Homo sapiens: one gene and its partner. The protein of the gene in region 1 interacts with the protein of each later gene in a biochemical or structural test. Each region holds a gene or a part of one and is shown on either strand. Other genes may lie near its edges. The genes, in order: ALKBH3 and OTUD4.

Region 1 (3,825 bases):
ACAACACTGTTTGAAATCCACTGAATAGGTCCTTTCACTTCTGTGATTCATATTTTTTGTATTCTTTTCCTAAAATGTCTTTTAAGGATAAAATGTCTTCACTGAACAGTGAGATAATGCTGAATTTTAATTTAGACATTCAGTTCTGAGGCATCTGAATATAGAGTATTGGTTGGAGAGTCTAAATTAATCCTCTAGTTCATTATCCCCTTTTTTCTTCCTTTTCTCACTGTTTCAGTACCAAAAATAACCCAGAAAAAAAATACCTACTTAGAAACATAACACAAACTTTATGCTATCTCAGTATTCAGTCCCTGAGCAAGTCAGGGAAGTGCTAATTAGATTCCCAGTAACATTGGAGAAAAAAGCCCATCTTCCTCCTTTACATTCTTGTTTTTCTTGTTAAGCGTGTAATTCTAGCATCTGATCTTTATCGCTATGAAGATAAATTTAAAGCTGTAAAGTAAATAGGAAATACAGCCTGCTGACATTATTATTGGAATTTCACTTTGGAATTTATTCTCTTGAACAAAGGTTTATTTAATATTTTTGTTTTATGAGTGTGGATCTCATGTTATGTGTTTTTCTACCACAATAAAAAAGGAGAACAAGAGATAAAGAAACTTCCAACTTCTGGAGGCTTCTTGAGTCTCCCCAGGTGTCCCATTAGCCAACTATTTGTTGTTTTTGCTGTTTATTTTTTAAAATCCTCTGCTTAGAATATAATATTATAATGTAGTATCCACAACAAGGAATTCCATCTTTAACCATGGTTTTCACATCAGAGTAAAGCTGAGTGATTATGTAAGCTTCCCTGGCAGTTTTACCTGACAACCATGGGATATACTTAATAATAGTAACAATAATATTCCTTCCTTTGCTGAACGTCTGTTTCTTCACTGCGAAACATATAACATGATATGGTTTGGCTGTGTCCCCACGCAAGTCTCACCTTGAATTGTAATAATCCCCGTGTATCAAGGGCAGGGCCAGGTGGAGATAATTGAATCATGGGGGCATTTTCCCCCTTACTGTTCTCATGGTAGTGAATAAGTCTCATGAGATCTGATGGTTTTATAAATGGGAGTTCCCTGCACATGCGCTCTTGCCTGCTGCCATGTAAGATGTGACTTTGCTCCTCCTTTGTCTTCTGCCTTGATTGTGAGGCCTCCGCAGCTATGTGGAACTGTCAGTCCATTGAACCTCTTTTTGTTGGTAAATTACCCAGTCTTGGGTATGTCTTTATTAGCAGCATGAGAACAGACTAATGCAATAGACATTCAAGGAGTTCCCTAAAGTAACAGTTCTTAGAGTATAATCTGTAGATCCCTGGAGAGGGTTCATGAAACCTTTTTTGGGAATCTACAAGTAAAACTATTTTCATAATAATACTAAGTCTGTATGGTATTTTCACTGTGTTGGGTTTGCACTGATGGTAATGGTGGATAAAGCTGCCAGCACCTTAGCATGAATCAAGCCATTGTCACCAAACTCTGCTAGTAGTCATTGTGTTCGTCATCATCATGCGCTTCCAGTGTAAACTTTAAAAAATGCCAGTTTCATTTAAGAATGTCTATTGATGAAGTAGTAAACATTATTCATTTTATTAAATCTTGGTCTTTGAGTATGTGTCTTCCCAATAGTCTTCTTAATGAAATTAAAAGTGTACCTAAAGTACTCCAGCTACAAACTAAAGTGTGATTGTTTGAGCTGTAAGCTGAACTAGCTACTTTTGTTGTGGATTGTTTTTGCTTAAAATACAACGGGCAGACCGACTGTGGTTATTCAAACTTGAGTATTTGGCAGACATTTCCTCATAAATGAGTGACGTGAATGTCACTTCAAGGAAAACAATGGACAAGATTTTTTTTACTAATGATAAAAGTTAGGTTTTCAAGCAAAAATTAGAATTTTAGAAAACTGGTATCTGCCACTATTAGGGTTCTCTAGAGGGACAGAACTAATAGGATAGATACACACACACACACACACACACACACACACACGTATATATATAAAGGGGAGTTTATTAAGTATTAATTACACAATCACAAGATCCCACAATAGGCTGTCTGCAAGCCGAGGAGCAAGGAGAGCCAGTCTGAGTCCCAAAACTGAAGAACTTGGAGTCCGATGTTTGAGGGCAGGAAGCACCCAGCACGGGAGAACGACGTAGGCTGGGAGGCTAGACAAGTCTCTCCTTTTCACATTTTTCTGCCTGCTTTATATTCACTGGCAGCTGATTAGATTGTGCTCACCAGATTAAGGGTGGGTCTGCCTTCCCTAGCCCACTGACTCAAATGTTAATCTCTTTTTGCAACACCCTCACAGACACACCCAGGATCAATACTTTGTATCCTTCAATCCAATCAAGTTGACATTCAGTATTAACCATCACAGTCACTTTGAGCCTGACTTCTTCCCATTATTTAGGCTTTTCTGCTGAGATCAGTGGTAATATTGTTGGATGAGAATTTTTTTTGTTATTTTATAATGAAATGTGTCAGCATTTAGAAGATCTGTGTAACTTAGTGAACTAATATTTTCCAGATGACCAGTGGTTGATGTTACAAAACCATACAAGGTTAAAGATTTATTCAAAGTGTAGGCTGGACCAATGGCTTTATTATTTTTTTTTATTTAAAGCATTTTTTTTTTAGAGACACAGGGTCTTGCTCTGTTGCCCAGGCTAGAGTGAGCACAGTGGCTCAATCCTAGATCACTGCAGCCTTGAACTCCTGGGCTCAAGCGATCCTCCTGCCTCAGCCTCCTAAGTAGCTGGGACAACAAACGTGCCACTGTGCCTGGCTTATTTTTTATAGAGAGGGGTCTCAGTTTATTGCCCTGGCTGACAGTGGCTTTATATATAAAATAATATGAAAAGTTTGACATGGTTTCAGATTCCATATTGCAACTAACCTTTAAGAAGTCAGCACCTGTTAGTGGAACCGCGACTGCTCCGCAGAGCTGCTGGTATGAGCGCCCGTCGCCACCCCACATCCCAGGCCCAGCCATTCTGACAAGAACTAGACTTTGGGCTCCTTGAGAATATTCAGTTTTGTAAGTTTTAATATCCTCTCACCATATTCAGCTTAAAATACCATACTTAATGATTATCCTTGGCAAGACAGGTGTGAAAGGATTGCTGTTGTATTACAATCATGGTGCAAAAATACCAGTCACCAGTGAGGGTATACAAATACCCCTTCAAATTAATTATGGCTGCCTATGAAAGGAGGTTCCCTACGTGTCCTTTGATTCCGACATTCATGGGCAGTGACACTGTGAATGAATTCAAGAGTGAAGATGGGGCTGTTCATGTCATTGAAAGGCGCTGCAAGCTGGATGTAGATGCACCAAGACTGCTGAAGAAGATTGCAGGAGTTGATTACGTTTATTTTGTCCAGAAGAACTCACTGAATTCTCGGGAACGTACTTTGCACATTGAGGGTCATAATGAAACATTTTCCAATTGCTATACCGTTCACCCTGAAAATGAAGATTGGACCCGTTTTGAACAGTCTGCAAGTTTAGATATTAAATCTTTCTTTGGTTTTGAAAGTACCATGGAAAAAATTGCAATGAAACAATATACCAGCAATATTAAAAAAAGGAAAGAAAATTATTGAATACTACCTTCGCCATTTAGAAGGAGGCATAACCTTTGTGCCCCATTGGACTCCACCTTCCATCACGCCCTCTTCAGAGACATCTTCGTCATCCTGCAAGAAACAAGCAGCGTCCATGGCTGTTGTCATCCCAGATGCTGTCCTCAAGGAGGGGCTGAGTGGCGATGCCCTCAGCAGCCCCAGTGCACCTGAGCCC
Region 2 (3,825 bases), on another chromosome or scaffold:
TGATAACCAACGTGAAAATGAATTACAAAATTCACTGCTTTAAGACTCCATTGCTTGCTCCTGTCCTAAAACCAATCTGAAGTCCTCATAGGTTGATAGGAGATAGTATCTCCATCACTGACTGTTTAGCCAGACCTGCATTCACATTCGGGCTCTACCACTAACTCACTGTGTGACCCCATGCAGGCCAGTTAACATCTGAATTTGTTTTACTGGGAATGTCAGTATAAGAGTAGATGATCTCCAATGTCAGGACTCTGCAATTCTAGGAGCCCCCAAGAGTACTCCGAATGTAAGGATTAAGTTAGACCTCTAATCAGGGAGGGATAATGTTGAAAATGAAATATTCCAAATCCTTCCTCTGCAAGAGTTCAGCTAAAAACCAAAATATGAAGAAAGTATAACCAGCTAATTGGCTAACCAATTAAAATCAACATTAAATACATTAAAATTAAGCAATGCAGCAGATAGTAAAATAATCAAGTTTCTTTTTATGAAAGTGGTCAGCAGGCTAAAGGTAGGGCACTTCGTTTCATAGTTTAACTGTCTAGAACCCACAAAAACTAATCTAGGTCAGGAGAAAACCTAACATTTAACAAGGACAGAGTTCTCCAACCTAAGAAAAGCTATTTCTAGGTTGACCACTTCCCAAAGGATACCTCTGCTCTTCTAGTCAACAACCACACTATCTTACATAGGAGGATGTACACGTTATTTCCTTTGATCTTTTCAATAATGGAGGCAAGTAAAGAATATTACCCCCATTCTATAAATGAAAAAAGCTAGGCCCAGATACACTACATGGCTTGCCCAGGGAAATTCAGCTAAAGAGTGATGGAGCAGAACTTCAAGCCCAGATTTACATCTAATTATTCCCCAGCAAGGGCATTTCCACTAGGCTGCCCAAAGATGCAGCTATGTCTTAAATATACTCACAGGTTAAGCCATCACCAGTTAAGACAAAAAAGTAAGTAAAACTGGAGCCTCTACTAGCACCAAAAACAAACGATATAGTACTGAAAATGCTGGTTTTTAAAATGATGAGATTTAGTAAACTTTAGGTTACTGACTGACAGGGTAAGAGTTAACACTAGTAATAATTTAAAACACTATTAATGAATAAAATAACTTTTAAGATGATAAAATGTAAATACCTTCACACCAAGATTGAAGAAGAATCGAAGAATATTCTTATCTAAAAATAAAAGTAATCACTTGTTAAAATTATATATCTGCAGAGATTTTTTTAAATCATCCTCATTAAATATATAGTTCTAAAGACAATTTTACCTACTATAATTGTCTTCTCTAGCCTGTGATACAAAACATAGATAAAAACTGTAATATAACACAACCCAAAAACAGGTTGTTCCCAAAGGTTAATTCCAGATTCAATAGGCTTTGTCTGTTAGCATATAAATCCCAAAATGGCTTAGATTGAAATTTTTATCTCATTAAAACTGAATCTGGGTAAAGGACATTCAGGTGGCTTTCTTTCTCAACTTTTCTGGGGGTTTAAAAATTAGGAAATAAAAATGTTGAGAAGAATGGTAAAATCAACATAAAACCTAACTTATTAGTAGCATCATTTGCAGGATAATATTCTTCCAAGTATTCATATGCCATGAGCCAGTTACTCATAGACACAAACATCAAACTACTAACTAATAAAACAAAAACATCCACATAAATCCAGGTAAACAGCATATAGTAGTCAGTGCATTACTCAAATTTACAGATATAAAATTTTGGAAACTAAAAAGGAGGGAGGTGTAAATTCCTTAAAAATAAAGAGGGAAAGCAAACTTTGAAAGAATTTTTTAAACAAAAATAAGACATACTAAATATAGTACTTTAACAGCCACTACATACTATATTTGCTTTTCTCTGTAACTTTTTCACGGATGCATGTCTGAAATGCAGACCAGTGTTGATAAAGCTCCACAGTGTTTAGGTATCTAATTAGTGAAATTATTATTGTAATTCAGAATGGTTTCAAGTCCATTTATGTAAAAACACAGAAGGAGGTATCATTACTAAGCATACTAGCATTAACAAGTATGCTAGAAACAAAAAAAAATTTTCTGGGCCAGGCGCGGTGGCTCACACCTGTAAACCCAGCACTTCGGGAGGCCAAGGCACGCAGATTACGAGGTCGGGAGATCGAGACCATCCTGGCTAACACGGTGAAACCCCGTCTCTACTAAAAAATACAAAAAATTAGCCAGGCCTGGTGGCATGTGCCTGTAGTCATCCCAGCTACTCAGGATGCTGAAGTGGGAGAATTGTTTGAATCTGGGAGGTGGAGGTTGCAGTGAGCCGAGATCACACCACTGCACTCCAGCCCGGGTGACAGAGCGAGACTCCGTCTCAAAAAAAAAAAAAAAAAAAAATTATAATACATTTTCTAATAAATCAAGCTGAAACAAGAATGACTGACTAATAGCTAAAACTTTGCTGTCCTTCCCATCCTTGAGCTTACTAAGAAACCAGACCTCTGACCTCTACTTACATCTCTTCATTTCTTAACTAAGCTTATTTGGACTTGATAAAGTCGATTTGAACTTGGAGAAGGAGCTCACCTTTAGGTAGGTCCTCCCCAGTCTGACACAGTGAATAAGGTGGTACAATGGCTCGATCTCCCTTTTCATTACAAGGAAACCCAGGATAGAGTGGGTCTTGATAAAGGCTCAATGTCTGAGGCAAAGGCATCAAGGGCTGGTTAACTGCCTGTATTGACACAGGAACTGGAGAGGGTGTTAAATGAGCTTGGGATACAGCTGAATCAGGTCCAGTGGTCAAAGTCTGTGTCACTGACAAAACGGGAATTGGAGCAGGGACACCTACAAAAGAGAAGAAAAGGAATCAAAATGACAAAAGATGAAAATCTCTACAAATATGCTTACATTAACCTATAAAGAATGCTGTATAACTGATAAAGCCAATCTAAAGTAGTACCTTTTAGTATCAACCAAGAGCCCTCCTGGACACCAAGAAGGAAATACGTCCAGGATACAAGCTCTGAGTCAATGTCTTCTAATAGTAGCTCTTGCAGGCACGTGTAGGACATGGGGCTGGTCAAGGGGTTCATTACGGGGCCATAAAGAGCTGGCCCATGAAGGAAGCATCAAACCGTGGTGCTAATTAGTGCTGAGCAACCAAAGCAACCAGCTCAAACATCATGCTCCTGAGACTATGAGGGCATATGTCAGATGAATACAACACCAAATGTACATGGTCTTTCCACATTGGAAGCAGAGCAAAGCAGAGTATCACAGAAAGCTCTGTGAGGCTCCACACACCTAATCCTGCTCAGAGGTCAAACTTCCACTCAAGAATTTGAAGTCTCTGACTAGAAAGGTATTTTGGCTGGCTAGATTTTCTAAACCCTTCTCTAACCTGTTGGTCCAAAAGTTGTAGGTTCACTTGGCCAGGCTGGCACAGTGGCTGGTAAAGAAGGCACCGCAGGAGTTAGATGTACCTCTGGAGAAACTAGAAGGGGAGCTGGATTTGACAAAGACACATGTTCTGCTGGCTTCTTCAAGAAAGGGGTGAGTGGGGGAAGACAGAAAAAGACAAGAGGTCATTTTGCTTTAACACTATTTCTAACCACCAGATACATATTGAGTTGCCTGCCTTTTATACAAATGAAGTACAAATAGCCCTTATAGTCTTAGAAATGTAAGAAAAACACACAGTAGCTAAAGATAATATGCAAACAAATTTGATCCTAACCAAGGGTTGCCTACCAACAAGGACTGTATTTTTTAATACAGACAGGGTTTCACCCTGTTGCCCAGGCTAGTCTCAAAACTCTTGGGCTCA

What was found.
Region 2: the proteins of ALKBH3 (region 1) and OTUD4 form a complex in vitro, tested with the Homo sapiens proteins (one large-scale study listed by BioGRID).

What each region holds. Positions count from the first base shown.
Region 1 is NC_000011.10:43,894,295-43,898,119, forward strand, and holds part of ALKBH3 (alpha-ketoglutarate-dependent dioxygenase alkB homolog 3), read left to right. Parts: intron 1-3,008; exon of another isoform or gene 3,009-3,825. UniProt on the Homo sapiens protein: Dioxygenase that mediates demethylation of DNA and RNA containing 1-methyladenosine (m1A). Repairs alkylated DNA containing 1-methyladenosine (m1A) and 3-methylcytosine (m3C) by oxidative demethylation. Has a strong preference for single-stranded DNA.
Region 2 is NC_000004.12:145,138,797-145,142,621, forward strand, and holds part of OTUD4 (OTU domain-containing protein 4), read right to left. Parts: intron 3,539-3,825; coding exon 3,400-3,538; intron 2,844-3,399; coding exon 2,583-2,843; intron 1,196-2,582; coding exon 1,155-1,195; intron 1-1,154.